7 linked regions of the Homo sapiens genome follow. The protein of the gene in region 1 purifies or fractionates together with the protein of each later gene. This does not show direct contact. Each region holds a gene or a part of one and is shown on either strand. Other genes may lie near its edges. The genes, in order: KDELR2, PKP1, HEPHL1, MACROH2A1, LYG2, EIPR1 and ECPAS.

Region 1 (4,210 bases):
TAAAATAAAAAAGTTCTAACTTCAAAGTATTTTAATTAACTACTGTTTTGAAACCAAAAATGTATGCTTACTGATAGCTCGTTTAGTCCCAGTTATATATACAAGGTGGTCTGAAAGTTTTAAAGTCAAGAACAGCATATTAAGACATTATTTTTGGAGCATTTTAATTAAAAATACACAGCTGACATAAATTAAGTGTCCATAGACCTGTGCACTGTAGATGAAATACATTCCTGTGGATGGCATACCATACCTTCATAGATGTGTTATACAATGAAATAAATGAAGTAAAAAGATCCAGGTAACGAGTTGTGAAGACCAGTGCAAACAGAAGCTGGCTTTTCCCAGAAATACCTAGAGAAACAGAAGGGAAGTATTAGAAGGGCCTGAAGAGCTTTGGGATTCCTGTGGATCACACTGTGCAGGGAGTGCAGACAGGGAAGGAGGGGTGCGTGGGGTCAAGGCCCAGGTCTAGGGATGGCTCTGAATGAACAAGAGCAGTTGTAGTTTTTCTATCCCTTCCCATTCCCAAACATGCTCCTTTTGGGAGGCTCTAACAGGCTTTTCTGTCTCACTATAAAGGGCGACCACAGGAAAGGGGCTTTATTATGCCAGGATGTGTATCATTCAAACGAACCTTTTACTTCTCAAATATATCACCTTAAGTAGGAACAAATTTCTCAATAATTCTGCTGTCATTTAGTGTTATAACTTGTCTCTTACATTCAGATTTTTCTTTTTTGTTTTCCCCTGAGACAGGGTCTCCCTCTGCTGCCCAGGCTGGAGTGCAGAGGCACGATCAAGCTCACTGTAGCCTTGACCTCCTGGGCTTCAGCAATCTTCCCACCTCGGCCTCCAGAGTAGGTGGGACTAGAGGTGTGAACTACCACACCCAGCTAATTTTTAAACAAATTTTTTGTTCACCATGTTGCCCACACTGGTCTTGAACTCCTGGGCCCAGCTTCCCAAAGCGTTGGCATTACAGGTATGAGCCATGTCGCCTGGTCCCTTCTTTGTATGGTAAAACAGTATCTCCATGGTGAGAAATCTTTTGAGAACGGAGATGGAGTCTACTGTCATTAAGGGGGATGAGGAGTAGATGAGAAGCACCGACTCAGGTAAGAGTTGGGCAGGAACTCCCGCTGGAATAATGGCATCGCATCCCATGGTGACTTCTTTGCTAAGAGCGGCAATTACTTGGATATGTTAAGATTTTTAAAGCTTCCCTCTCAGTTAGGCATAGTGGTCATGCCTATAATCTCCACATATAGGGGGGCTAAGGCGGGAGAATCGCTTGAGCCCAGGAGTTTGAGACCAGACTCCATCTCTACGAAAAATAGAAAAGTGATAGCCAGGCAAGGTGGCACACACCTGTGGTCCCAGCTACATGGGAGGTTGAGGTGGGAGGATTGCGTGACTCCAGGAGGCTGAGGCTGAGTGAGCTGTGGTCACATCCCTGCACTCTAGCCTGGGTGACAGAGCAAGACCCTGTCTCAAAAAATAAATTAATTACAATAAAATAGAAATTCCATTGTATTTGTATAAAAATGTTCCTGAATGCTAGGACAACATGAAGGTATGAACCCACAACTACAGCTGGTCTTCAAAAGCAGCTGTCTTTTTTAAAGCCTTGAAACTGTGTTTCCACTTCCAACCACCAACCCACCTCCAGAGCACTGCATGGCACAGCCACACTCAGCCAGGAAGGCTGGACATTTATGTGGTGTGCACACAGCTTTTCTGACATCTATATTTGGCCAAATATTTATGTGACAAAGGACGCAAACTATGGGTTTCAGATGCTGGAGACTGAGCAAATGCATTAAAGAAACTGAAGGCTGACTAAATGTCAGAACCCACCCACCCTCATCTATAATGCATACTTCACACCACTACACATTTTAGTAAGTATGAATTTAACAGAAAAGTCACTTCACCCAAATCATTCACAACACTCCTCTGGAACGTGAAAAGCACATTATTTTTCTTTTCTTTTTTTGAGACTGGGTCTCACTCTGTTGCCCAGGCTGGAGTGCGGTGGCACAAGTACAGCCCACTGCACCTTTGACCTCCCTGGGCTGAGGTGATCCTCCCACCTCAGCCTCCTGAGTAGCTGGGACTACAGGTGGGTGCACCACCACACCTGGCTAATATTTGTATTACATGTTGTTTTTCAATATTTTATGAACAATCATTTTGCAGCTTGCTGAAACTGAAAACCTGAATGTAAGAATGTTACTTTCTCAGATGAATAACTGTAGTCTCAGCCTATTCACATACACATCTAAATAGAAATGGAAAAAAATGTTGATGCCACCCTTCCAGATCCATCAATAGAAACCAAAGGGCCAAAGGAGGAGACACGGACAGTGAATCTGCTCTTAGTCTTTTCCCCGTAACGGATAACTGATTTCTTCCTACAGAGACCAATGTTCCAAAGGGGAAATGACAAGGCTGCTGCTAACCAAGAAACCGGGAGGTTTCAGAGGGGGAAGAAGAAAGAACAGGGAGCAGTCAGACCATACCTGGTGTTTGTTGAAGCCTTGAGAAATCAATTTCCAGCTTATTTCCTATATGGTTCTTTCCAATATTTTAAATATAAACATACAGGATACAAGTAGGTGAATTTTGTGGGAAAGGGTTTTACTCTAACAGAACTTTGGAAGCCAGGCAGATTTGAAATTGTGTCCTCATTCCCAGCATTCCTATACTGAAAACCAGGGACCATCATATTGTCTTTACCAGCCCCCGTGGGGACCCAGCTCATATCCCACCTCCTCTGGGATGTCATCTCTGAAGATACCCTCCCTCAGGACTGTTGATTCATTCAGCAAGCACATAAGGGGAACTGCTTCATGCCAGCTGCTGCCCTAGCTCCAATTACAGTACTTATAAAAATACACTGTGATGATGTGGTTCCTGCCTCTCCTCTCCCCAAAAACCTCACTCAGTACCAAGATCTTTAAAGGCTGGGGTCATGCCTTATTCCATCTTGTATTCCCTGCATGGGACACTGGGCCCTGACACACAGCAGGACTCAGAAAATATTTGCTGAATGAATAAATGGACAAAAGAAAATGGGATTCATTTTATCTTCATGTCATGGGGTCAAATTCTCATTTTGTGGTATTTTGGGAGAACACTTCTGAAGAATGTCCAGGTCATACTGTGTCTCTGTGACTGTAAATAGGGCTCTGCCCTAATTAACTACTAGCTAGAGGGTGAGAGAGCCCCAGGTGCGCACAGGGCAGTGTGTGGTTTGAAGCCGGTCCATGGAGTAGCGTCCACGCAGGACAGCCTTGCTGGAAATCTGCGGATGCTAACGTGGTCCCACACTGTTCTTCCCCAGCCTGAGATCCTGATTAGGAAGTAGCAGCTTCTTCCTTTAAAACAACAAAACTGTCCTGTCTTCATAGGAAAATGGGAATCCTAGCTGAAGACAGAAGGGGGTGGGGCAAGAATCTCCTGGAGGGGTTGGGAGTAGAATACCTGCTATTAAACCAGAGCAGCTCCTAGTCGGCTTCTCTCCACTTTGAGATCAAAGCATGCTAAGGTTACCAGGTAATAAGATCTCCCAGAATACTCACTTTTGTAAATGTTTCTGAAACTGATATCCCCTTACCAAATACACCAAACATCTATATTAAGGAGTACAACTTGTTAAATGGAAATCAGTCATTAAACAACATCATTCTTGTCTTATCCTACTGGGCCAGGTTAAATGTCTTTTGTTTTCTGTTTTGTTTTCGAGATGGGGTCTCTCTCTGTAGCCCAGGCTGGAGTAGACTGGTGCAATCATAGCTTCCAGCCTTGACCTCCTAGGCTCAAGCAATCTTCCCAATGAGGTATTATATATTACAAAATAGTTAGAAGTTTTCGAATGAAGAAATGATAAACACATGAGGTGACGGAAATAACTACCCAGATTAGACTATACAACATACACATGTATTGAAACATCAAACTGTACCCCATAAATAGATCCAATCATAATGTATCAATTAAAAAATTTTAATCCGTAACCCCAAATAATGCAAATTAAAACACATAAACCAAAAATAAGACATGAACATTTTAAAATTTGATATTGTCAAATTTCTCCTAGAAAGGCTATGCCAATTTACGTATCTACTAACACGAAATGCAAAGACCCTTTCTTCACATCCTTGCCAACATTTTCCTACCCAGTGGTATGTACTGCTGTTCTTTT
Region 2 (4,210 bases), on another chromosome or scaffold:
CCTCGGCGTCCAGGCGGTAGGAGAGGTTGTGCAGAACACACATGCAGTTTTCCACAGACTGGGGACCAAGGAGAGGCATGGGCCTGAGCCTCTGCCCGGCCCGACAGGCTCCTGGCCTACCACCTACCCTAGCTAATAAGAGAGCAGAGGCACCTGGGCTGCATCGGGAAAGATGAGCGCAGGCACCACCACACTATCAGCCTGGGAAGTCTTCCAGGGCCACCTCTGGGACCTGAGTTTGAATCTGTCATTTCCTGGCTGCATGAACTTGACTGGCCTCACTTCTCTGGGCCTCAGCTATCTCAAATGTAAAATGAGACTACAATTGTCCATTTCACTAGGCTATTTGGAAGATGATACAGAGAAAGCACTTATCACAGGGCCTAGTGTGTGGTAGGACTGCTATGGACAACATGCCAATGGGCAGACTGGGATATTGAAGAATGTGTCTTTTTTTTTTTCCAGAACAAACTCCTCCAGAAGAAGCCCCATGCCTCTAGATTCCAAAGCCATCTAGTGCCCCCATCATTCTTTCTTCCTGGGGCCAGTCCTTAGCTGTCAATGTCAGCGGTGCTAAGTCCACACAAAACACAGCAACACCTGGAGCCCAGGGCTTCATCATGGCAGCTGGGCTCAGATCTTTGTCAATCTCCTTTGGCAAACCTCCAAAGGACTAGGGTTTGGGGGCAGCAGATTTACCCTCCTAATGATGTTTGGCCCTTGCTGGGGTCTAAGGGAATCTGACTTCCAGGGCTTGGGGTTACACAGGTGTTGGAGATATTGCACACAGAGCAGAAAAGCATCTTGCCCTTTGGAAGCAGGCTGAGCAGCCCAGTGACAAGGCTCTCCTCTGTGGCCCTGCTGTTGCTTCCAGTGGAGGGAGCAGGAGATAAAATCCCTCCTTACGGCAACTGTGCTGAGAACCCAGGTGCTGTGATGTCAGCCCGTTCCCTGGCGATCTGGAGCCTGCTGGGCCTCACTATCTCCTGAGCCACTGTCCTGCCATGGTGGGAACATCTCAGCCTTCTGTTTATCTGCCCTCCACAACTTTTTTTCTTTCTGTTTGTCTGTGCTGTGTGTCCAGAAGTCCAGAGAGGGCAGCAAGATGACTGCCAATGGCTTTTCTGGGAGGCAGTGGGAAGATAGCAGTGGCAGAAGGAGCCTCATCTCAGGGGGGACACTAAGCCCTGGGGGCACCAGTATGGATTCCTCTGGGCTGTGGGGCAGGGCTCGGGGTCACAGGACAGGCCTCAGCACCACCAATGAAGCACAGCCAGCAGATGCTCGCTGGGAGCTTCCTCTGTGCCAGGCCCTCTTCGTGTTTTGCTTATTAACTAATCAAGCCTTTCAGACAACCCTTGAGGTTGATATGATTATGACCCTTTCCATTAGAGTGAAGAGTGAACCGGGAAACAGAGAGATTAGGGAAGCAGCTGCATCTACTCCACTTCTAAGTGAGGGAGAGTGGATTTGCATGGGCACGCTGTCCCCAGAGCCCACTCCTGTAGCCACCACTGAGCCCTGCATCCAGATGCCTCTTCTACCACCCCTGAGTCTGTGCTCCTGTCTTGTCACTGGGCCAGGCCTCAAAGGCACCCAGAAAATGTAGGGGGCTGGGCCTAGGGGTCAGGGTGCCACCAGGGGATGCACTCACCTTGTCGTCACAGCGGCTGGCCGCTACACAGTTCTGGACATAGGCCATGAGGGAATCAATGAGCCCTGAGTAGTTACGCATGGTCTGGCGGCCTGCATCGGCCGAGCTCAGGTTCCTGGGGGAGAGAAGAGGGTGGAAGAGGGCAGAGAAAGGGGGAAGAGAGAACGGGGAAGGTGGGGACAAGAGAGTGTGGTGGGGGACAGGCAGGAGAGAGAACAGGCAGGAGAGGGGAGGGCAGAGAGGAGACGACGGGGTGGAGATTGGAAGTTGTGGTAGAAGGAAGGAAGGAGAAGAGGAAAGGGAGGAAAGGAATGAAGAGAGGAAAAGATGAAAACGGAAGGAAAGAGAAACCATTTAGCCAATTCCGCCTGGCCCTGGCTGAGGCTGAAATGAGGTCTCATTTGCACTCAGTTCTTCTCCTCCTTCACTCTGCCCAGTAACTTTATAACTGGCAATGGCTCCATGTGGCAACGGTCCCTCCGCAGCTGCATCCCAAGGCTCACACCCTGCTACTAGTGGCCCTTTGCGGAACAAGAGCCAGAAGCTCCCGCATGCCCAGTCTCTTTCTGTGGGACAGGAAGAAGCCCTGTTGATGCTGGATCAGAAGTGGATCTGGGGGTGGCCGGGCTGGGCACCAGAAGCTCCCTCTCCACCCAAGCTGTGTTCTGCCCCCAGCAGTAGGCTCACTCCCAAGCAATGTGGGCTCATCCCCAAGCAATGTGGGCTCATCAGCCTGGTGCAGGTGGGGTGTGGCTGCTGTTGCTACCAGTAGCACATCAACCCCATAAAACTCTTAATTATCCTCACTTTTCATCTCCCCAGCCTCTCTGCTTCCTGGAGGCTGCTACCGGAGGCTGGCAGGGAGAAACACAAGTTGAGACACAGAGGCACATGCCAGCTGCACCCACCACTCTGGGGGGATTCTCAGGAGTTGGGAAAGACAAATCCCATTAAAGCAAGACAAACCCCATTAAAGACCCTAAAAGGGATCCTGCTCCAGGGTTCCAAGCCCTGTACCAGCCGCCCCTCCACACCCACCCATTTCGCCAGCTTGTAAACCACTGCTTCTAGAACAAGCCCTCCCACCAGCCCCACAGGGGCTTTGCCACACCCTGGTATGGAACTTAGGCAACTTTGGGTGAAGCAGTGCCATCTTCATGCCAATGAACATGGCAAATGGTTTTAACACCACAGCTGGGAAGTGACTCATTAGCAACCCATCGGTAGACTTTTGTCTAAAAGAACACTCTTCAAGATGATAGCACAAGAAATGCATTTTTTTTCATGGGGTGGAGGAGGGAAATGGTTGAACCAGTTTGGATATTCAGATCTAGGCATTTTCAAGCTCAGATTTCTGACTAATGTCCGCTGCATTCTCTCAAAGGGGGTGGTAGGGTCCTGGGCCTTATCCAGTTCCAGGGAAGTTAGGAAGGCCTGAGTCCCTGTGTCTTGGAGCCTGCCCATAAGAGGGAGTGCCGGGTTGTCTGTTATGTTCTATGCACCGGCTGAATGTTGGCTGAGATGGGGCTGCCTGGGGAAGGGCCCAAGGCTGGGACAAAAAGACCCCATGTATCCTCTTCTCTCACCTCAAGCAGCCTGTGGCATTGAAGAAGACCTCAGGGTCCACCACTTCCCGGGACATGTTGCTATTGCCATCGCACCAGCCAGAGAAGGGAATGATGACGCGGTCGGCCAGAACAGGCAGGGCGTCGGCAATGAGTTCCTCCTTCAGCTCGTCAGTGGAAGACAGGTTCCAGAGCAGCCCTGGGGGTCAGAGACCATCAACCCAATTTGTGCCAGGCTCAGGATGCCCTAGGGACCGAGGTAACAGCCCCAGCCTGGACTCTGGCAAATGGGCCCTACTGAAATGTCGCTTTCCAGGTAGCCCTGGTCTGTAGAACCTATTGTCTGTCTGTGTCATGAGGCTATTTCTCAATGCCCCAACCAGACTGAAGGTTCTTTGCAGGCAGGGAACATCTCAGAGTTCTCTGTCAAGGCCAAAATTATGCATGTGGAAAGTGATCAAAAAACGTTTGATTGATCAGTGGTTTTTAGTATAAATTTTAGCACTTGGAGTCTTCTAACGCTGTCTCTTTTCCATCTGAAAGTTATGCCAGAAATACTTATCAGTCATTACTCTGTACATGGTCTGATCTTCCCAGCCCAATTCTAGGTCTTCACGGTGACCTCTTCCTCTTGTGCCCCCCACCTTGAGTGCCTACCATATTTCTTGAACACAGGGTAGGTGCTTAAGGCCTGTTAACCCCTTCTCCCCTCAGTCTTACTCTCTTTCCATCACCTGGGAATCCCAGGGCTTGTGGAATATGGATCTTGCCTGGACATCAGCCTTCCTCCTTTTGCTCTTTAACCTCAAAAAGATGGTGACCCCTTGTGTGTGCACACCACCCAAGGTCACCCTCTGGACACCCCTAATTGGGCCAAGGCCAGTGTCACTAAACTCTCAGGATATTAGCCCTGGGCCAAATCTGCACAGCTGTGTCTTGGCCCAGCCTGGAGAGACAGGCTTGCACCCCAGCCTGGGGCCATAGCCAGTGG
Region 3 (3,887 bases), on another chromosome or scaffold:
AGAGCAGAGTCTGAGGGAGAGAATCACCGTGGTGATTAGAAGGAGGAGTCCAATGATGAAAAGGATGACCAAGGCTGCCTTGGCTCCTGTTGGACCCAGATTCTTGCCAAAGAAATAGAGCTGCTCTTTGCCAGGTCGTTCTGTGAAAAAGATAAACTTGTCAGGCCCCTGACATTTTTGAGGGGTGAAATGTTGACTCATTTACATGGGGAGAGGGTATCATTACCGTTAGATGGCACCGTGGCTGGGTGAGATGCCACTCCAGGAGATGTGGTGGAGTAAGGAATCCTGTTGTCTGCACAAAGAAAACAAGTTCATTGTTTTATTAACAACAGAAGGGGATTCTTTTCATGACACTAGTCATTTCATTTCACCAGCGAGGACTTATCCCATCAGTATCTGCCAATCATTTCTGGATTCTTACTGTGCTACTTCATTCCCATGTACATGCTTTCCTGCCCCAGCTGTCTTTCCCACTTCTGCTCACCCACTGAGTCTATCTGGAGCATCATGGCCTCTGTGAAACTTTGGCTCATATCCTCCAACTGTTACCCATTCACTCCTACTGCTGCTATTAAGCCCTGTACTCTGCATTCTGCTACGGCACATAGCATACTTGATTATAGTTACATATTTACATATATGTCTCTCTTACTTGACTCTGAGCTTGTTGAGGGCTATATCTGGGTTTTTGTCATGCCTCCTGTTTTGGGGGTCTACAGGAAGCTCGGTGCCATCATCTGGCATCACTGACAGACAACCGTACCTATGTTACGAAGGACCGTGTAGGTTGTCTCCATGCCAGCATGGATGTGGTCAGACACATGACAGTGTAGCAGCCATGTCCCTGGGTGATCTGCAAACAGTTCAATGGTTTGGAATGTCCCAGGAAAGAGATCATACACATCTTCTCGGTAAGATTTATCTATCTGCAAAAACGTTTTAAAAAACAACAGCTAGTAGCCTTCTTTGCTCAGAACAGCAAGAACAGAAAGAAGAGCAAAAACAAATAAAACCCACAGTAAGCAAAAGGAAGGACATAAGAAAGAGCAGGAATCAAGAATAGAAGTACAATAGAGATAAGTCAAAGAAATCTAAAACTGATTCTTTGAACAGATCAATAAAATCAATAAATTCTGTAGTAGCCAGCTTCCATGATGGCCCACAATGATCCCCACCTCCTGGTATTCATAACCTTTGTGGTTCCTACCTACATTGTATAAGGGTTGGTATGCGAAATCAATAGCATGTGGAAGAAGTGCTGGCATTCCAATTCCAAGATTAGGTTATCATTACTTCTGTGTTAGATACTCTGTCACCCTCTTCTCTTGGATTACTCACTGGAGGAAGCCAGTTTTCATGTCTTATCCACATGATCAGGAGCTGAACCCTCTAGTTAACAACCATATCAGTAAGTTTGGAAGTGGATCCTCCAGCTCCAGTCAAACCTTTGAAAACTGCAGCTCCAGTCGACATCTTGATTGCCTCCTCATGAAAGATTCTGAATCAACCAACTAGTTAAACTAATCCCAAATTCCTGATCCAAGAATTACTCTAAGTTTAGAGTAATTTGTTATGCAGCAATAGATAACTAATACAAATCTCTGGACAGACTAACCAAGGGAAAAGGGAAAAGGACACATTAAAAATACTGAGAATGAAAGTGAGGACATCACTAAAATCTTACAAATATTAAAAAGGAAATACTGGACAAACACCTCTTATCCAAAAATTGTACAACTTAGATGGTATGAACAAATCCCTTAAAAGACACAAACTCCTGAAGATTACTCAAGAATACATTGATAACCTGGATAGCACTATATCTATTAAAGAAACTGTAATTGCTTCAAGATATTCCAACAAATTAAACTCCAGATGGCTTTATTGGCAAATTCTACCAAACATTTAATGGAGAAATAATACCAATTGTAAACAAACTGTTCTGGAAAATAGAAGAGGAAAGAACAGTTCCAACTCATTTTATGAGGCCAGCATTACTGTGATACCAAAACTAAACAAATGCTTTGTGAGGAAAAAAAGCTACAATCAATACTCCTCATGAACATAGATACCATCATCCATAACAAAATACTAGCAAATCAATTCCACAAAAAGGAATAATACATCATGACCAAGTAAGGTTTATCCTGGGAATGAAAAAGTGTTTAAAAACTCCACAATCAATAAATGTAATTCAGCAACAGATTAAAGAAGAAAAAGCATCTGATCATCTCAATAGATGCAGAAAAACCATTTGATAGAATTTAACATTTGTTGATGATCAAAACTCTGAGCAAATTTAGAAGGAAATTTCCTCAACCTCATAATGGGATCCACAAAAAAGCTGCAGCTAACTTTATATTCAAAGGTGAATGACTAAATGCTCCCCTTGTAAGATTAAGAACAAACTGAGGATGTCCACTTTCACCACTCATATTCAAAATTGCACTACAGGTCCTAGCCATTGCAGTAAGACAAAAGAAATAAAAGACATACAGATTGAAAATAAATGAAGCCATGTCTATTCACAGACAACATGATTGTCTGCATAGAAAATCCCCCTAAAATCTATAGGAAAACTATTGGAACTAAAGTGAGTTTAGCAAAGATGCAGGATGCAAGGTCAACATGCAAATATCAATTATATTTCTAAATATTGGCAATAAACAACTATAAATCAAAATAAAAACACTATCATTTACACTATTACCAAAGCCTTTTATATACTTAGTTATAAATAAATAAAACAAAGTATATGCAAGATCTCTATATTGAAAACTACAAAATGCTGATGAAAGAAATCAAAGAAGAGCTAAACGATAGATATACCATGTTCATGGATTGGAAGCCTCAATATTGTTATGTCAGTTCTGTCCAACCCATTGTATAGCTTCAGTGCAATACCAATCAAAATCCCAACAGGATTTTAAAAATCAAAATCAACAAATTATTTCTAAAATTTATCTGGGAAGGCAAACATCTAGAATAGCTAAAACAATCACCATCTGATTTTGAGACTTACTATAATACTAAAGTAATCAAAACATTGTGGCATTCAAGAAAGGGCAGAGTATAAACCAGTGTAACAGAAGAGACCGCCCAGACATAGACCCACATATATGTGGTCAATATGATTTTCACAAAAGTAAAGAGTCAATTCTGTGGGAAAAAAAGATGATCTTTTCAATGAGTGGTGATGGAACATTTGGACATATATATGAAAAAAAAATGAACCTTATTTCATATCTTGAACCACATATGAAAATTAAAATGTATCAGAGCCCTAAATCTAAAACTATACCACTTCTAAAAGAAAACAGAGACCTTTTTTGGGACCTTCAGTAAGGCCAAAATTTTTTATACATGACACCAAAAGTATGATCTATAAAAGAGAAAAAAGAAAAATTGTACTTCATTTTACTTCATCAAAAATTAAGAACTTCTATTTGAAAGCTGTTAAGAGAATGAAAAGATAAGCCACAAACTGGAAGCAAATATTTGTGAGTCACATCACTGAAAAAGGATTTGTATCCAGAATATATAAAGCCCTCAAACTCTACAATAAGGAAACAAGTAACCCAATTTTTTTAAATGGGCTTACAATTTGGACACTTCACCAAAGATTTACAGATGACAGATGGTAAACAAACACATGAAAAGATGCTCAATATCATTAGCCACTGGGAAAATGTAAATGAAAAACAATGAGATACCACTATATCCCCTCCCCAAGGAGGGAATGCCTAAGGGAAAAAAATGAAATAAAAACTAAAAATACCAACTGCATATGTGGATGTGCAACATATGGAGTTCTCGTATATTTCCTTGGAAATGCAAAATGATACTGCCTTTTTGGAAAACAGTTTGGTGGTTTCTTATGAAAT
Region 4 (3,885 bases), on another chromosome or scaffold:
ATGGGATTACACCAGAGCCGGCCAGTAAATCACAGTGGGTTTTAGGAGGGGAAATAAAACAGCTTGTTTGTTGCATCCAGTGTCTCTGGCACGGAAGTAATGTTGGAATTAAAACAGTATAAAGGTAAGCATGTTGGGAAAGAGCCATTGGTAAAGGATCACTCTCTTAGCTGAGGCCCAGTGGCACAGCCTACATGGATGGAAGATGACCATAACCACACCTGTGTGATGGCTCCCTCCAGCCTGTGAGGCCCTGGCATCTGGACATCCTGTCCTCAGCCATTCTGGTCACGATATTTATGGATACCCCCACTCCCTCAGCTCTGTTTCACATTAGGGGTGACCCCTCTCCAGAGGGGTAGTACATAGGGAATACTAGTTTGGGGCTTTGATTAAACTTTCCTTAGATTTATAAGCTTAAAAGGAAAAGCTGGTTTATTTTTTTCAAGCTACTATTTATGGGTATGTGTTGAGCCCCAGGCGCGGTGCTAAACCCTTTATCTGCATTATCTCACAGCAACCCTACAAGGTGAACAGCATTATTCCTTTCAAGGGCAAAGAAACTGAAGCATAGAGGGGTTAAGTAAATCATCTGAGGTCACTCAACTTGTACTTGGTAGAGTGAGAATTTGATCAGAAGCCCTTCGCTTCAGAGCTGTTAGGCTCATGGAACCCCTGCCTCCCATCTCCATTGGTCAGCCAGACCCCAGGTCCCACCACCTCATCCCACCATAGGACTGCCCCCTGCCTGCGTACTCTCTGTGCATAAAACACTACCTGGGAACTCCCTGACCTGCCCAAGTATAGCCATCAGCCTCTTTCCCCTCCTAAGCATTGGCCTCAGAGGTGAGATAAAAGGACAGAAACTCAAGAGACCTTTGAATGGGGGAGAATTTTTCATTTACCCAAAGCCCGGGGGCCTGGAGTGGGAGGCCACTTTGGGGCTGCCCCATCCCCTCTCTAGCTGCAGGGGGCACAGCTCAGGGGAGTGGTGGCCCCATCACCATCGCTTCTGAATGTTCTCCCTCCTGTATACCATTGCTCTCGGCTCAGGATCCTGATGACTTGGATCAAAGTGGCCTGTGGCTGGGGCAACTTCAACCTGGCAATTACTAAAAAATGGTAAAGGCCTAAGAGCAGCCCACAGCACAGTGCGAGGGGGACCTAATCTTAGCAGAAGAATGTCTATACCCTAAGTGACAGACAAAGAATACCAGAATCCACCTCTACTCCTCCCCAGCCGTCAATTGCAAGCTCGCAATCTGTCTGCTCCAGAAAAATCTCCCTGGACTCCCAGGATACAGCCTCTCCTGCTGTGACTCTCTGAGGTCCCTAATGAGCTCCTAGCCTGGATTTGCTGCATACCTGCCTGGCCCCAGCCCTGGAAGGTGAGCTCACTGAGAGCAGGGGTGCTTAGTGAAGTCCCACTCAAGGAGAGGGCTGAGAAGAGCTGGGATGTGGTCCTTGGTGCACCTAGAGTCCCTGCGTGTCCAGACAGGACCGTGGGACAAGCATCCAATGCGTACACCCCCCAGCCATTACTGAGGAGGCTGACCCAAGAGGGCATCTTGCACTGGCCCTGGGAAACTGAGGTCCAGGACTCTTGGGAAAGGCAAAGGGCATTACAGACACAACTGGAGTGAATTTAGGGAAAGCTCAGATGTCTCTTTAGTCTGCTTAAGGTCCTAGCCCTATGGTGTAGGAAACTCTTGACTCCAGAGGAACTTAAGGAACATGCCATAAACACAACCCACAGGCCAGGTCAGGGGCTGAAGAGAGAGTGGAAACAACAAACAGTGCACGCATCTCCCAGGTGGGGCTGATGGTGGCCGCAGTACTGGCAGCCTCATCATCACCACCATTGTCATCACTGCACAGACCCCTGAAACACCTAATTTCTAGTGGAGGAAATTAATGCTTAGAGAGGTTAACACCCTGGCCCAAAGCAGCTGGGATTCAAACCCAATTCTGACTCTAGAGTGGAAGCCCTTAGTCCCTCTTGCTCTGCAACATCTGATCTGAAAGATAGGCAGCACAGCTGTAGGACAGAGTGGCTGGCACAGAGGCCAGGCCAGGCAGGAATGGCTATTCAGAGGGGCCGTGGTTATGCAAGTAGCAAGTGAACCCAGCTGAGAAGCCAAAGATGCAACACCAGTGGGCATGACTGCTCCTGAAAGCAGTCAGTACTGCACTGGGGAGCCTCTATGTAGCCCCTGCTGCTGCATGCCCACGGTCACGGCCAGCAGCTCTCTGGGGTCTGAGGCCAACATTGTTAGCACCGTGTAACTGCAACGACAACAGCAGTTACCCAGTCACAGCTATCCCAGGGACGAGGGTGGAAGGGGCAGTTTTCTACTGCATGAGCCTTTTAAAAGACCCTTCAAAGCCACCTACTTTATAGACAGCTCCTCTTAACTGAAGACTCTCTGTGCCATGCCCCGGTGCTTTGCATTTTCTTGTCCCAGACTCTGATTCCATTTCACAGGATGGGGAAACAAGGCACCGAAGTGGGACCACAACTCAAATCCTGTGTGACTCCGGGAAATCCTGAGCTCTTAACCACTCTGCTTCTCTACCCTGGAGGGAGTAGGGCTGTCAGGCCACCCAAGCCTCAGAGGCAGACCTGGGTCTGACCTGCCTCAGCTGCTGCATGTGCCACCGCTGCCTCTGTCTGGAGGCTGCAGGGCTGTGTGTGGAGTGCTCTTGCAGGGCATCCACCTACACATTCCATTTTGCTACAAGCATTCTAACTGGCAGCAAGACATTTTGAGGCCCACCAGAAAACGTTAGGAAAGCCGTTACCTCCGCCATTCCTTCCTGGCAGCCTGCGCAGTCCAGAGCAGCCACAGTCCCATAGCAGGGTTTCTTCCTTAGGCTGTAGCTTCCTAGGACAGAGGGATGGATTTGTCAACAAAGGGTTGTCCTGGAAACAAATCCAGATTCATGTTCACCCACCAACAACCCTGAAATGCTTGCAAGGCCAGGGACATTCCGGTGGAACCGTCTGCTCTCTATTAACGGGACGGTAGGCAGGTGTGGGCACTGCAAGTCTAAAACATTTGATACTGACCTCTCTCCCCCACTTGCAGATCCTCAACATCTGGGTCCACCCTGCCAGCTTGGATTATAAAGTCCATGCTGGCTATTTGTAGAACAGCAGTTCTCAAAAGCTGCTAGACCTGCTGAATCAAACTGTTGTGTTTTGACAAGCTCTCCAGAATTCTGATGCAGGCTAAAGCTTGAGAACTATTGATGTAGAGGAATAGAAAAGAATATTTCCTCACTGAAAGTCACATACTCTTTTGTAAGGGTCCAAGGCAGAGGCAAGGAAAGCCTCAGGAGGGGTCTGTGTCAGAAAGCACTGGTCACAGGCAGGAGTGACTGGCACACTTTTGGTGTGTTCCAGGGAGACCCCTTGGGACCTCCCAGTCAGCATGGCATGGCATGGGCATGGGCCAGGCTACACTGTGTCTGCATCATACCACATCTCACCCAGCTTGTGTGGGATGTAGCTAACCGTTGTTGGAGACAGCTGCCTGGGCATGCAGCCCGGCTGCAGCTACAGAAGCCCTGCCCCAGGGCTAGCTCAGCTAGGCAGAACATCGGGCCACCTGACAACTGCTGTTTGCAGTAGCTCCACAGGCCCTCAGCCCAGCCCAGCTCCCTGTGCACGTGTGAGGCTGAGACAGGCAAGAGGGCACCTCACTGTAGGGACCTTGGAGCTGGCAGAGCATGGTCTTGGGATTCACATGCAAAATGCAACTTCTCACAGCTCCTCTCAGCACCCTGCAGCCCCCGTTGATCCAGGTCACATCCACAGACTGGGCTCTGCCTGCTCCAGAAGCCCTTGGCCCCTAAGTACAGGCTGCAACAGGACCGAGGATC
Region 5 (4,631 bases), on another chromosome or scaffold:
CCAACTAGTGGCGGAGCCAGGCTAAAACATGCATTGGCTAACTCCTAGTACAACAGGCTTCCCAGTGCACTAGTGTGGCAGAATTTTTTTTGTGTGTATGACAGAGTCTTGCTTTGTCACCCAGGCTGGAGTGCGATGGCATGATCTCGGCTCACTACAATCTCCACCTCCCAGGTTCAAGCGATTCTCCTGCCTCAGTCTCCTGAGTAGCTGGGGTTACAGGTGCCTGCCACCAAGTCCAGCTAATTTTTGTATTTTTAGTAGAGATGGGGTTTCACCATGTTGGCCAGGCTAGTCTTGAGCTCCTGACCTCAAGTGATCTGTCCACCTCGGCCTCCCAAAGTGCTGGGATTACAGGCATGAGCAATTTGAAGGAGAAACAGAGCAGAAGCGACACCTGTTGGGGGTTGTGGATCTGTTTGTTTCTGCAGTCAGAGATCAAAAGGATGTCTTAGAATGGTTGTCCCAAGTCATTAGCAGTGATCAGAGGCTGTGGCTAACTTAGCAAATTTTTAAAAATGGTTTTCTTCTGAAGTAGAAGAAACAGTTTCTTTTCTTTTTTTAACTTTAAATTCTTTTTTTTTTTTTTTTTAATTAGAGATGGGCTCTCACTATGATGCCCAGGCTGGTTTCGAACTCCTCCTGGGTTCAAGCAATCCTCCTGTTTCAGCCTCCTGTGTAGCAGGAACTGACTTCAGGCACACACTACCATGCCCGGAAAAACAGTTTCTTTTCTATTGACGTAGGGATCCGTGGTTCTGAAATGTTTGCTGAGATGGATTTGAGGGCCATAAAACCTTACCAGACTCTGATCAAAGAAGTCGGGCAGAGACATTGCGTGGACCCTGCTGTCATCGCAGCCATCATCTCCAGGGAAAGCCATGGCGGATCTGTCCTGCAAGACGGCTGGGACCACAGGGGACTTAAATTTGGCTTGATGCAGGTATTTAGCTAGAAACTTTCTATCAGCCCCACTGCATCCCTCCTCACAGAAGCTCAACCTGAACTAGAAATCCATTTGCAGTGCTTCCAAGCCCCAAAATACCCTGGCATCTGGCTACAGGTACTCCAGCATAATTTTTTTTTTTTTTTTGAGATGGAGTTTCATTCTTGTTACCCAGGCTGGAGTGCAATGGCGTGATCTCGGCTCACTGCAACCTCCACTCCCGGGTTCAAGTGATTCTCCTCCCTCAGCCTCCTGAGTAGCTGGGATTACAGGCACACGCCACCATGCCCAGCTAATTTTTTGTATTTTTAGTAGAGACGGGATTTCACCTTGTTGGCCAGGCTGGTCTTGAACTCCTGACCTCAGGTGATCCACCCACCTCAGTCTCCCAAAGTGCTGGGATTACAAGCTTGAGCCACTGTGCCCGGCCACTCCAGCATAATTTGATCTGGGATTTCTGTAACACATCTTTTTATTTTATTCAAGGCTTATTCATTATTAGATATATTTTAAAAAGTATTTTAGGAGTTTCATAACTACCATTCTGCAATAAATAATATGTAATACACTAAAACTGAGAAAATCTTATAAATAGCATTATTGTTACAGGTGTCCTCTTGGGGTTCATGAAGTAGTAAATTTCATCCATGTGGATCAAAACATGGTATAACTGTGCCCTACTTGAAACAACTTGTTCCTTTGGGTAAACTGGAGGAAGGGGATCCAAATTATCTGGATATTTGCTTCCAGGCTCGATTTTAAATTGTCTGTAGAAATACAGACTTCTGGCCTTCCCAGTTAGAAACAAATTTTTATCTGAATTAGCTGGATAATTATTTATTACTATAAATGTGTAGACTTTGGGTGTTATTTGTTTCAAAACAACTTAAATTTTTTTTTTGTATATTAGAATGTTTAGCTAAAACTATACCATGTCCATTTCTCCCAAACCTTACTTTGTTTCTCTGACTCTCATCTATATGAAAGAAAGAACAATAGAATTGACTCTTTGGGGATAAAGGCCGGTATCTATGACTTGAATACCAGGAGAGGAAATTAGGAATGGCAGAAAAAATGTGTTACCTCATCCAGATGCTGACTTTATTATCTGAATTTTCTAGCTTGATAAACAAACGTACCACCCTGTCGGTGCCTGGGATAGCAAAGAGCACCTTTCACAGGCTACTGGGATTCTAACAGAGAGAATTAAGGCAATCCAGAAAAAATTCCCCACGTGGAGTGTTGCTCAGCACCTCAAAGGTAGGCTGTATTCTGAGTACTTTGTTTAAATGAGCAATGAATGAGACCACTGAAGGCCAGTGTGACCCGAGACTCCCTGGGAGCATTTCCACGGGGTCAGCAGTGGCCCTGGGAGGAGCTGTCTAGAGGCTGCATTTGCATTCCCTGAACCACTGAGTTACTTTGAGAGGTCCTCCATCCTCAACCTCCATTTCCTCTTCTGCAGAATGTTGGGGTTCTTATTCATTGCTTACTGAGCTATTGAGTGATACCTTGAAACATAGTGAGACCCTGTCTCTACAAAAAAAAAAAAAAAAAAAAAAAAAGCTGGGCATGGTGACACACAGTCCCAGCTACTCAGGAGGCTAAGCCAGGAGGATTGCTTGTGCCTGGGAGGTTAAGGCTGCAGTGAGCATTGATTACATCACTGCACTCCAGCCTGGGAGACAGAGTGAGACCCCATCTCTCAAAAAAAAATTTATCTATCTATCTATCTATCTATCTATCTATCTATCTATCTATCTATCTGTTTGCCTACCTCTCATAGGTTTTTTCCTGTTATAAGAAACTGTCAACAACTTTCCAAATTGTCTGAACAATGTTACTCTGTGAGTATTTTCGGGACTTCAGGTGCTATATATCCAAGTGGAAATCTCTGCTTGGCTGACCACAGGCCCCCTCAAGTTCAGCATCTCCCAGATGGAATTAACTCACTAACTTCCCACTATAAATTTGCTCTTTCTTCTGCATTTTACATGTCTTGGAGGCACCATAATATAGCCAGTCATCCCAGCCTGAAAACCAGATTGCTTTCTTAGGCTCTCTGGTTCCTTCTCTCTTCACACCCAACCACATCAATTCCTATTAGGTTTGCCTCCTATTGGCCAATGTTATGTCCTCCACACTCTAACGGCCTTAATCAGAACAGTTTCTAGTCTCTACTTCAAGGTCCTTGAAGGCAGGGATCAGGACCAGGCATCTTCCTCTCTGGATATCAGAGCAGAGCACAATTATGTTAAACACATACATAACTACTAGAGATAAAATTCTAGGGTAAAATAGCACACACATGCATATGTACACATACCCAAAGAAATAAGTGTGTCTTGGGTACCTTGCAGTCAGTGTGGCACCTCTCCTGGCACATAGTAGGTGCTTGAAAACATTTCCTGAATGAATAAATGAGTGAGTGAATAGATGAGTGAATTATTGAATAAATGAGAGAATGTTACAAGCATTTTCAGCAGAGGATGTACTGGGAGTCTAGTTCTGCCAGGCCTGGATTACATAAAAAAGCAAATCTGATTTTTGCAACAAGAAAAACCAAAGACTTTGGAAAAAGAGAAAGAAAGCAATCTGGAATTTTCCCAGTGATTCTTGGGATAGCACGTCCTTTCAGAAAGGGAGGGAGAGGGAGGAGGATTTGGGACTGCCTGCTTTGGAAGATTTGCCTGGAAAGCTAACATCTTGGCAATGCTCATTGCTTATTTCTGTTGAAAGTTAATATTTGAGCCTAATTCTCTGTGTTTCATTTCAGGTGGTCTCTCAGCTTTTAAGTCAGGAATTGAAGCGATTGCCACCCCATCGGACATAGACAATGACTTCGTCAATGATATCATTGCTCGAGCTAAGTTCTATAAAAGACAAAGCTTCTAGGCAAAGCTCTGTGGGTGGGCCAGGTTGGCAGAGTGCTCAGATGGCCGCCTTTGAGAGTTTTACGTGAATGTGTTGTATACAACACTGGCAAAGAAATGATTAAAATCATGAAAGAAAATTCATTTCCCAATTTTCTGAATGAAAATAAGCATTGAAAAAAGGAAAGAAAAATAAAAGAAATCCATCCAGTTCACAATATGGTTCCTAGGAAACGGACATAGACATATATATAATTACTTTGCAGTAAATGTGAATATCATGGCAAATGGTCCCTAGGTATTCCAGCCAGGCTTCATTTTAGCCTGTGATTCCAATGCCCACCTACTCCCTGTCTACCAGAATTGCTAACAAGTTAAGTAAGCCTTACCCGAGCCTTTGTCTTTTTTCCAGTATCTGCCCAGAGCCCTCAGGCTTTGCTTATGAGAAGTTCCTGACTCGTAAGCCAGCCAATCCATGGGACAATGGAAGAAATAGGGATGGAATTCTAGCTTCATGGGAAACTGAGAGCCAACTGAGGTGAAGCTGTCATTCAAGTTAGATACACCAAGTCCTTCAAACCCACAGCAACCTCCTGTGTTTTCTTTTGTCTGTGAAGATCCAGGGACTGGCTTTTCTTATTTTCAGCAGTTGCTGCCACACGCTTTCTTTCACGGGGTCCATCCCTCACAAAACATGGCTGAAGATAAGCATGTAGGACCCAAATCAATTATGGTTCTTTGGTTGCAAGCAAAAGTAACCACTTATAGAAATTTTAAGCATTAAAAAGAAATTACTGGAAGGCTAACAGAAC
Region 6 (4,210 bases), on another chromosome or scaffold:
AGTAAATGACTCGTAAACCGAATCCAGCAGAGGACTATTCCACAATCAAGTGGAATTCTTTCTAAGGATGCAAACGCTGGGCCAATATTTAAAAAGCTATTAATGTAACTGACCAAAGAGATCAAAAGAGAAAAATCCTAAAACCAAATTATCAATTCCATGGATATAAAAAGGCATTTGAAAACTTAATCTCTCGGCTGGGTGCGGGGGCTCACACCTGTAATCCCAGCACTTTGGGAGGCCAAGGCAGACGGATCACAAGGTCAGGAGATCGAGACCATCCTGGCTAACACCCTGAAACCCCCTCTCTAAAAATACAAAAAATTAGCCAGGCGCGGTGGCAGGCGCCTGTAGACCCAGCTACTCAGGAGGCTGAGGCAGGAGAATGGCGTGAACCCGGGAGGCGGAGCTTGCAGTGAGTTGAGATCGCGCCACTGCACTCCAGCCCGGGTGACAGAGCGACTCTGTCTCAAAAAAAGAAAAAAGAAAAGAAAATTTAATCTCCATCTTCCATTTCAAAAGTCTTTCCTCACTTGGCAACAGGCAGACCCTGAAGCGCTGGCCTGGTCCATCTGTCCCTCAGACTGATGGCACAAAAAGCCAAAAGCCCACAGTCTCTTTGCCCCTCTGACCTGACTGCACTGATCTCAGGACTCCAGGAGAACCTCCCAGAACAGAAAGGAGGCACGCATATCCTTGTGTGGCTTACAACCTGCCCTGCTTGCTTCCTGGTTTTGGTGGTAAACCGAAGGGAAAGCAACTTGAAACAAGCCCAAGTCATCATTGTCACCCACCTTCCCACCCCGACCGTCCTTTCTGGTCTGGCCCAGCTCACTTGGCAGCAGTGGGCTCAAATAGGAGTTGGCAGATGTAGCCCTCACTCTGCCCACACCTGCAGGCCCTGCTTGCCGCTGGTCCATCTTAGTCACATGCCTGCCCCCAGACCTACACATGGGCAGAGCCACCACTGCCTAGAGGTTCACTGTTCCCATCACAAGGCAAGTTTGCCACATGGAGATTTGACCCACACAACAAAGAAGATCTATTAATGTCAAAAGTTCAAAGAAACATGATTGCAGGAGAGAAGTCATACTGTTTGTATGCACTTTGAGATAGTCACAAAGAACTACTGTTGTGTTAACTGACAAGTATTCATTAAACTCATATTGAGAAAATGGATTTCTACTGAGCAGTAAACTAAAAGTGTGCAAAAGCATTTCAAATATCATTTGAAATTTCATGCATTTCAAATATAATTATAAAAAAATCCAGAATCATTACCATGAATTTGCTCAGCATTTTGCGATCTTAACGACCCTCCGTGTTGGTCTTTTATTTGCAGTTGCAGTACTGCCCTTTATCTTTCAAGTGTCATTACCTTCACTCAGCGGTCAACGATCAGATCTCTATCCTTTCATGTAAAGTGTTCTCCATGGGATTTGAATGTCACTGACAAACAAACAAAAAAAAACACTATCCTTTTCAGTTTTCTTGTTTACTGCAATGATGGTTCTTCAAACTTAAGAAAGTCTTGGTCCATGATACTATCCGATAAAATCCAAGTAGCAAAAGTCAGCTACTTCTTTTAAGATAAAGAAGAAAATCCAATAATATATTTGACTACCTTAGAGAATCAATTTCATTCATTTTTCAAACCTCAGAAAATAATATTTCAGGGAGGAGCCAAGATGGCCGACTAGGAACAGCTCCGGTCTAGAGCTCCCAGCGTGAGCAACGCAGAAGACGGGTGATTTCTGCATTTCCATATGAGGTACCGGGTTCATCTCACTAGGGAGTGCCAGACAGTGGGCGCAGGTCAGTGGGTGCAGCGAACCGTGCGCAAGCCGAAGCAGGGCGAGGCATTGCCTCACTCGGGAAGTGCAAGGGGTCAGGGAGTTCCCTTTCCTGGTCAAGGAAAGGGGTGACAGACAACACCTGGAAAATTGAGCCACTCCCACCCAAATACTGCGCTTTTCCGACGGGCTTAGGAAACAGCGCACCAGGAGATTATATCCCACACCTGGCTCGGAGGGTCCTATGCCCACGGAGTCTCGCTGATTGCTAGCACAGCAGTCTGAGATCAAACTGCAAGGTGGCAGCGAGGCTGGGGGAGGGGCGCCCGCCATTGCCCAGGATTGCTTAGGTAAACAAAGCAGCCGGGAAGCTCGAACTGGGTGGAGCGCACCACAGCTCAAGGAGGCCTGCCTGCCTCTGTAGGCTCCACCTCTGGGGGCAGGGCACAGACAAACAAAAAGACAGCAGTAACCTCTGCAGACTTAAATGTCCCTGTCTGACAGCTTTGAAGAGAGCAGTGGTTCTCCCAGCACGCAGCTGGAGATCTGAGAACGGGCAGACTGCCTCCTCAAGTGGGTCCTTGACCCCTGACCCCCGAGCAGCCTAACTGGGAGGCACCCCCCCCGTAGGGGCAGACTGACACCTCACACGGCCGGGTACTCCTCTGAGACAAAACTTCCAGAGGAACGATCATACAGCAACATTCGCGGATCACGAAAATCCGCGGTTCTGCAGACACCGCTGCTGATACCCAGGCAAACAGGGTCTGGAGTGGACCTCTAGCAAACTCCAACAGACCTGCAGCTGAGGGTCCTGTCTGTTAGAAGGAAAACTAACAAACAGAAAGGACATCCAACCAAAAACCCATCTGTACATCATCATCATCAAAGACCAAAAGTAGATAAAACCACAAAGATGGGGAAAAAACAGAGCAGAAAAACTGGAAACTCTAAAAAGCAGAGCGCTTCTCCTCCTCCAAAGGAACGCAGTCCCTCACCAGCAACGGAACAAAGCTGGACGGAGAATGACTTTGACGAGTTGAGAGAAGAAGGCTTCAGACGATCAAACTACTCCGAGCTACAGGAGGAAATTCAAACCAAAGGCAAAGAAGTTGAAAACTTTGAAAAAAATTTAGACGAATGTATAACTAGAATAACCAATACAGAGAAGTGCTTAAAGGAGCTGATGGAGCTGAAAGCCAAGGCTCGAGAACTATGTGAAGAATGCAGAAGCCTCAGGAGCCGATGCGATCAACTGGAAGAAAGGGTATCAGTGATGGAAGATGAAATGAATGAAATGAAGCGAGAAGGGAAGTTTAGAGAAAAAAGAATAAAAAGAAATGAACAAAGCCTCCAAGAAATATGGGACTATGTGAAAAGACCAAATCTGCACCTGATTGGTGTACCTGAAAGTGATGGGGAGAATGGAACCAAGTTGGAAAACACTCTGCAGGATATTATCCAGGAGAACTTCCCCAATCTAGCAAGGCAAGCCAACATTCAGATTCAGGAAATACAGAGAATGCCACAAAGATACTCCTCGAGAAGAGCAACTCCAAGACACATAATTGTCAGATTCACCAAAGTTGAAATGAAGGAAAAAATGTTAAGCGCAGCCAGAGAGAAAGGTCGGGTTACCCACAAAGGGAAGCCCATCAGACTAACAGCGGATCTCTCGGCAGAAACTCTACAAGCCAGGAGAGAGTAGGGGCCAATATTCAACATTCTTAAAGAAAATAATTTTCAACCCAGAATTTCATATCCAGCCAAATTAAGCTTCATAAGTGAAGGAGAAATAAAATACTTTACAGACAAGCAAATGCTGAGAGGTTTTGCCACCACCAGGCCTGCCCTAAAAGAGCTCCTGAAGGAAGCACTAAACATGGAAAGGCATAACCGTACCAGCCGCTGCAAACTCATGCCAAAATGTAAAGACCATCGACATTAGGAAGAAACTGCATCAACTAACAAGCAAAATAACCAGCTAACAGCATGACAGGATCAAATTCACACATAATATTAACCTTAAATGTAAATGCACTAAATGCTCCAATTAAAAGACACAGACTGGCAAATTGGATAAAGAGTCAAGACCCATCAGTGTGCTGTATTCAGGAAGCCCATCTCACGTGCAGAGACACACATAGGCTCAAAATAAAAGGATGGAGGAAGATCTACCAAGCAAATGGAAAACAAAAAAAGGCAGGGGTTGCAATCCTAGTCTCTGATAAAACACACTTTAAACCAACAAAGATCAAAAGAGACAAAGAAGCCCATTACTTAAGGGTAAAGGGATCAATTCAACAACAAGAGCTAACTATCCTAAATATATATGCACCCAATACAGGAGCACCCAGATTCATAAAGTAAGTCCTGAGTGACCTACAAAGAGACTTAGACTCCCACACAATAATAAT
Region 7 (4,210 bases), on another chromosome or scaffold:
TCTCCGCGTTTCGCGGCCAGGCTTTGCCCAGGCTTTCAAAGGCACCCAGCAGATATTCCAGCTGGAGCTCCTTTTCCTTTTCATTCTCCTCTTCATTTTTGGTTGTCCGGACCCCACTGCTTTCAAGTGAGTTCTAGGATATATCAAAGAAAAGAAAATGTAATATTTTCTTCTTCAAAGTTACAGGTATACTATTAAAGCTATCAGGGTACCAACCAAGGCAGGAGATATTAACCAAGAGTTAAATGATAAATTCTCTACCATAAGTTTCCCTATTTACAACAAGAATTTATAACCAGAATACTGTATCTCTAATAAATTTAGGCAATACTTTACAGGCATCTGTAAACAAAAGCTAAAAAATACTGCATATGTAGTCTTTTGAGCATAACATGAAAAGACTTGCATTAGAATCAGATTTTAAAGATGGAAGAAACTCAGTAATGATCTAAATCCAAACTCTTTCTTGATAGAGAAACAGAGGCTAAGAGAAGCAACTGGTCCAGCTTGCTAGTGATGTAATCAACTTAAAACACAAGTCTCCCAAATCCATATGCTATCACTATGTTTGTAATGGAAATTATTTAAATAGCCTTATTACTGAAAGAAAACAACTGCAATTTAGGAGCAATAAGAAATAAGAATGTTACTTAAAATATTTCATGTTTCACAAATAAACAGGGAAACCACACCCTTTTTTTTGGGGGGGGGACCAGTGCCCAACTTTTAAAAATGAGTATTCCATTTTCCACATGAAACTTGAGTCTTTTTTTGACCCAAATCCTCCACTATATGGCAGAGGCAATTCACATGGCACACTGAGCTTCTTGCCTTTACTCTAGGATGGCTGGGGTGGCTTAGCTTATTAGCCAAGGCAAAGCTTATTATGACATAAACTGTTCATTCACTACCAAATCCACTCTCCCCTTCTCCCATGGAGGGCAAATGGACACCCAGAATGAAGACTCAGTCTGCTGCCAGGTGTGGCTAAGTACTGACCAACAGGATGGCTATAAGTCAAAGTGCCATCTAGCGGTGCCCAGGAACTCTCCTCAAGAGAGACATGGCATGCCCACTGTATCCTTCATCCTTGCTTCATCTCCTCTGCATTCCTGCCTAGAACACAAACACACTGTGGACCATGAGGATGATGACCACACCCTAGAAATGGCAGAGTTCAGAGCTGTAAAGAGACGGAATACCTGAACACTTTGTGATGCTCCCAACGCTTTGTGAGAAACATAGCATTGACTATCTTGTTTAAGGCCGTATTTTGGAATTTCTCTGCTACTTGCAGCTAAACTAATCCTAATAATCAGGACATAGGGGAAAACAATTTTTTAACTTTTTCTTTTTAAAGTATAAACCAGAACTGAGGATACAGGTGGTATTACCTTCTTGATGAGAGGTATGACAATGTTAGAGAACTCCTGGAATCTGTCCTCTTTGGTGGCCTTCAAGATATCAGCTGCACAGCTGATTGCTACAATCTTGTATTTGACATTCTCTTTGCTACATTCCTTCAGAACAGCTTGAAGAATTTCATTTGTGCTGGGTTGATTGGGCACAGACTTTTCCAGCTCTGCACTACAGGGTCCATACAAAAGCATCAGAAGTTAATAAAGGCTGCAGTTTTCGGGTCCAGTTTAAGAAATGGCATCTTCATTGAAAGAACATTTACCTGCAAGCTGTCACCACACAGGCAATGGCTTTCAATAGCTCCTCCTAAGGGGTTGAAAGATGAGGAAATACTATTAAGCCCAAACATGTCATTTACACTGTCTAAACCATGATTACAATTACCTTAGGAATTTTTGATAACTATGACAACAAAAATTAACAACAGTCACCTTATCTTTAATGCATAATTTTAAGCACATCCACCAAGTTTTACTCCAAACCATGGATGTAGGATAATTATCTTCACCTCCATTTCATAGAAGCCTAAAGAACTGATTCGACCCAGGTCTCACAGAAAACAGTGTCAACCACAGAATTGGAATGATGTCTGACTCCCAGTCCGGTACTACTTCATTCCTGCATGGGCCACTATTGACCTTTACAACATAAAGATCATTAGGTTACCACAATCTCATGTTCCCCACTGAGTGTTCACTGTTAAGAATCCTACTAAAGCTCTTGTGTAAAAAAATAACTGTTACTAATTCATAGGTCCCAGAGATGGGCATCTTCAGCCCCAGGTTTAGAGGCAGGCTACCTTGCTACTCTATTTCACATATGCCCAATCCTGATCTTTCTATGCCCAATCCTGATCTGTTCATGAGGTCAACAGGTACAAAATGCTGACAAGTTGGTTTAAGACGTAACTTGGAAGGCTGAATATGGAAAATGTATCTATCTCCAGCATTACTGTCCATTATGCAAGGCCACACGGGTTGCAGTTTGAGAGGAAATACCACAGTTAATCAGGCAAGGTTTACCCAAAGCTTCCACTGTCTAGGAAATCTAGTTCACAAAAATAATCCATTGGAAAAGTTACACAAAACCAGATCGTTACTATTATGCAAAATGAAAGATGAAGTCAGAATCCCTTTAACTGGGTATGAATGGTTCCTTTACCTTTCCTGCCCACGTTCTTCCAGCCAGGCCTTGCAGCAATGCGGTCAGTATCATTCCGAGATATGGAGGTACTAGAGAGCTAGTCTGTTTTGCAATTGATGCCATGGCAATTGCACCCTGGGCTTTCATTTTCCAGGACTGAGACTGCAAAGCCTTCTGGGTAATAGTAATTAACTCCTGCAGGTATAATCGAATGCCACCAAAGGATCCTAGGAAAGCAAAATTAAAACAACTTTTAAGTGACAAGAAAAATTAACTGATTTTTCTAAACCTGAAAAAAAGTCAGTGACCAACAGTCTAAAAGCAGTGACTCTCAACTGTTAAAACACACCACTCTCTCAAAGGGAGAGAAAGTGTGTTGGTGTTGTGACTTATTCTCACAATAGTAGAACTTTACGAACTTGGGTGCCCACAGGAACGTATCACACAAATGGGCATCATCAATTAATATGCGACAAGGTGAAAAACACATTTAGAAAACTACTCTAAAATACTCTAAGGCCACATAAAATCACACTCTTAATTAAAAATGTAAAGCTCTCCTTGCTCACAGGGTTTATATTCTCTCATGTGGGCAGTGATGAATGAGTAAAGACAAAAATCCTGAGTGCCAACCTTGAGAACTCAGCAATTTGGATGGGTTCAAAACTAAATGGGATGAGCAATTTGGATGGGTTTAAAACTAAATGGGATGCATATTAAGGTCCTGGGAAAGTAACTTCAGAGGAGTTTATGAATAACGAATGCAAGTAAAAAATTCTAGCTGTGATTCCTAAGAAGCAGGTTTAACTCAGGCCACACTACTAACCAGGTACGTTTTCCTGCCACACTTCGGTCCATAAATTACATTCTTCTTTTTCGGATTTCTCCTCATCAGCAATTTCATGCATGCCTAAAAATGCCAGAGGCAGGACTTCTTTTGCATGATTCTTTAATACATCAGGGCTGTATCGTCCAATAGCATGAATAGTCAAAGCACAAGAGGTCTTGTAGATAGGTTCTGAAAAGGAGAAACCAAAATCTTTACGATATTTATTGTTTTTAAGGGTAACTGATCTAAACAGGCTATTGTTCAACTCATATAATAGCAAAACAAACAGGTAAAATCAATTAGAAATGTTTCTAGCAGGCTGGGTTGTGGTGGCTTACACCTGTAATCCCAGCACTTTGAGAGGCCAAGGTGAGCAGATAGCTTGAGCTCGGGAGTTTAAGACCAGCCTGGGCAACATGGCGAAACCCCACCTATACAAAAAATACAAAAATTAACCAGGCGTGGTGGCACGTGCCTGTAGTTCCAGCTACTCAGGAGGCTGAGACACAAGAATCGCTTGAGCCCAGGAGGCTGAGGTTGCAGTGAGCTGAGATAGCACCACTGCACTCCAACCTCAGCGACAAAGCCAGACACCATCTCAAAAAAAAAGAAAAGAAAAGAAACAAATGTTTCTAGCAAATCACATAAAATCATGGAGGGTAAGACCTAATTTGTACTGTTTTACTGGGCTGTTAACATCTAAATTTAAAATGACATAAAATAGAAAAAGAAAGGTACCTTCTTTCTCCATATACCACCCATTGAGCTTCTGCAGGAGTTTTTCAGTGCTGCTATCCCGTGAGGTCTGAAAAAGAAACA

What was found.
Region 2: the proteins of KDELR2 (region 1) and PKP1 purify together in Homo sapiens (affinity purification with mass spectrometry; one large-scale study listed by BioGRID and IntAct). This does not show direct contact.
Region 3: the proteins of KDELR2 (region 1) and HEPHL1 purify together in Homo sapiens (affinity purification with mass spectrometry; one large-scale study listed by BioGRID and IntAct). This does not show direct contact.
Region 4: the proteins of KDELR2 (region 1) and MACROH2A1 purify together in Homo sapiens (affinity purification with mass spectrometry; one large-scale study listed by BioGRID and IntAct). This does not show direct contact.
Region 5: the proteins of KDELR2 (region 1) and LYG2 purify together in Homo sapiens (affinity purification with mass spectrometry; one large-scale study listed by BioGRID and IntAct). This does not show direct contact.
Region 6: the proteins of KDELR2 (region 1) and EIPR1 purify together in Homo sapiens (affinity purification with mass spectrometry; one large-scale study listed by BioGRID and IntAct). This does not show direct contact.
Region 7: the proteins of KDELR2 (region 1) and ECPAS purify together in Homo sapiens (affinity purification with mass spectrometry; one large-scale study listed by BioGRID and IntAct). This does not show direct contact.

What each region holds. Positions count from the first base shown.
Region 1 is NC_000007.14:6,473,931-6,478,140, forward strand, and holds part of KDELR2 (ER lumen protein-retaining receptor 2), read right to left. Parts: intron 355-4,210; coding exon 254-354; intron 1-253. UniProt on the Homo sapiens protein: Membrane receptor that binds the K-D-E-L sequence motif in the C-terminal part of endoplasmic reticulum resident proteins and maintains their localization in that compartment by participating to their vesicle-mediated recycling back from the Golgi.
Region 2 is NC_000001.11:201,317,826-201,322,035, reverse strand, and holds part of PKP1 (plakophilin-1), read right to left. Parts: intron 3,419-4,210; coding exon 3,241-3,418; intron 2,221-3,240; coding exon of another isoform or gene 2,158-2,220; intron 1,770-2,157; coding exon 1,655-1,769; intron 59-1,654; coding exon 1-58. UniProt on the Homo sapiens protein: A component of desmosome cell-cell junctions which are required for positive regulation of cellular adhesion.
Region 3 is NC_000011.10:94,107,945-94,111,831, reverse strand, and holds part of HEPHL1 (ferroxidase HEPHL1 precursor), read right to left. Parts: intron 930-3,887; coding exon 767-929; intron 296-766; coding exon 227-295; intron 141-226; coding exon 1-140. UniProt on the Homo sapiens protein: Is a copper-binding glycoprotein with ferroxidase activity. It oxidizes Fe(2+) to Fe(3+) without releasing radical oxygen species. May be involved in the regulation of intracellular iron content.
Region 4 is NC_000005.10:135,336,931-135,340,815, reverse strand, and holds part of MACROH2A1 (core histone macro-H2A.1), read left to right. Parts: intron 1-1,240; exon of another isoform or gene 1,241-1,388; intron 1,389-2,802; exon of another isoform or gene 2,803-2,885; intron 2,886-3,885. UniProt on the Homo sapiens protein: Variant histone H2A which replaces conventional H2A in a subset of nucleosomes where it represses transcription. Nucleosomes wrap and compact DNA into chromatin, limiting DNA accessibility to the cellular machineries which require DNA as a template.
Region 5 is NC_000002.12:99,241,574-99,246,204, reverse strand, and holds the end of LYG2 (lysozyme g-like protein 2 precursor), read left to right. Parts: intron 1-746; coding exon 747-943; intron 944-2,067; coding exon 2,068-2,206; intron 2,207-3,722; coding exon 3,723-3,841; 3' UTR 3,842-3,959; downstream 3,960-4,631. UniProt on the Homo sapiens protein: May act as a potent antibacterial protein that may play a role in the innate immunity.
Region 6 is NC_000002.12:3,367,572-3,371,781, forward strand, and holds part of EIPR1 (EARP and GARP complex-interacting protein 1), read right to left. Parts: intron 1-4,210. UniProt on the Homo sapiens protein: Acts as a component of endosomal retrieval machinery that is involved in protein transport from early endosomes to either recycling endosomes or the trans-Golgi network.
Region 7 is NC_000009.12:111,369,041-111,373,250, forward strand, and holds part of ECPAS (proteasome adapter and scaffold protein ECM29), read right to left. Parts: intron 4,197-4,210; coding exon 4,130-4,196; intron 3,581-4,129; coding exon 3,389-3,580; intron 2,790-3,388; coding exon 2,581-2,789; intron 1,726-2,580; coding exon 1,682-1,725; intron 1,588-1,681; coding exon 1,395-1,587; intron 134-1,394; coding exon 1-133. UniProt on the Homo sapiens protein: Adapter/scaffolding protein that binds to the 26S proteasome, motor proteins and other compartment specific proteins. May couple the proteasome to different compartments including endosome, endoplasmic reticulum and centrosome.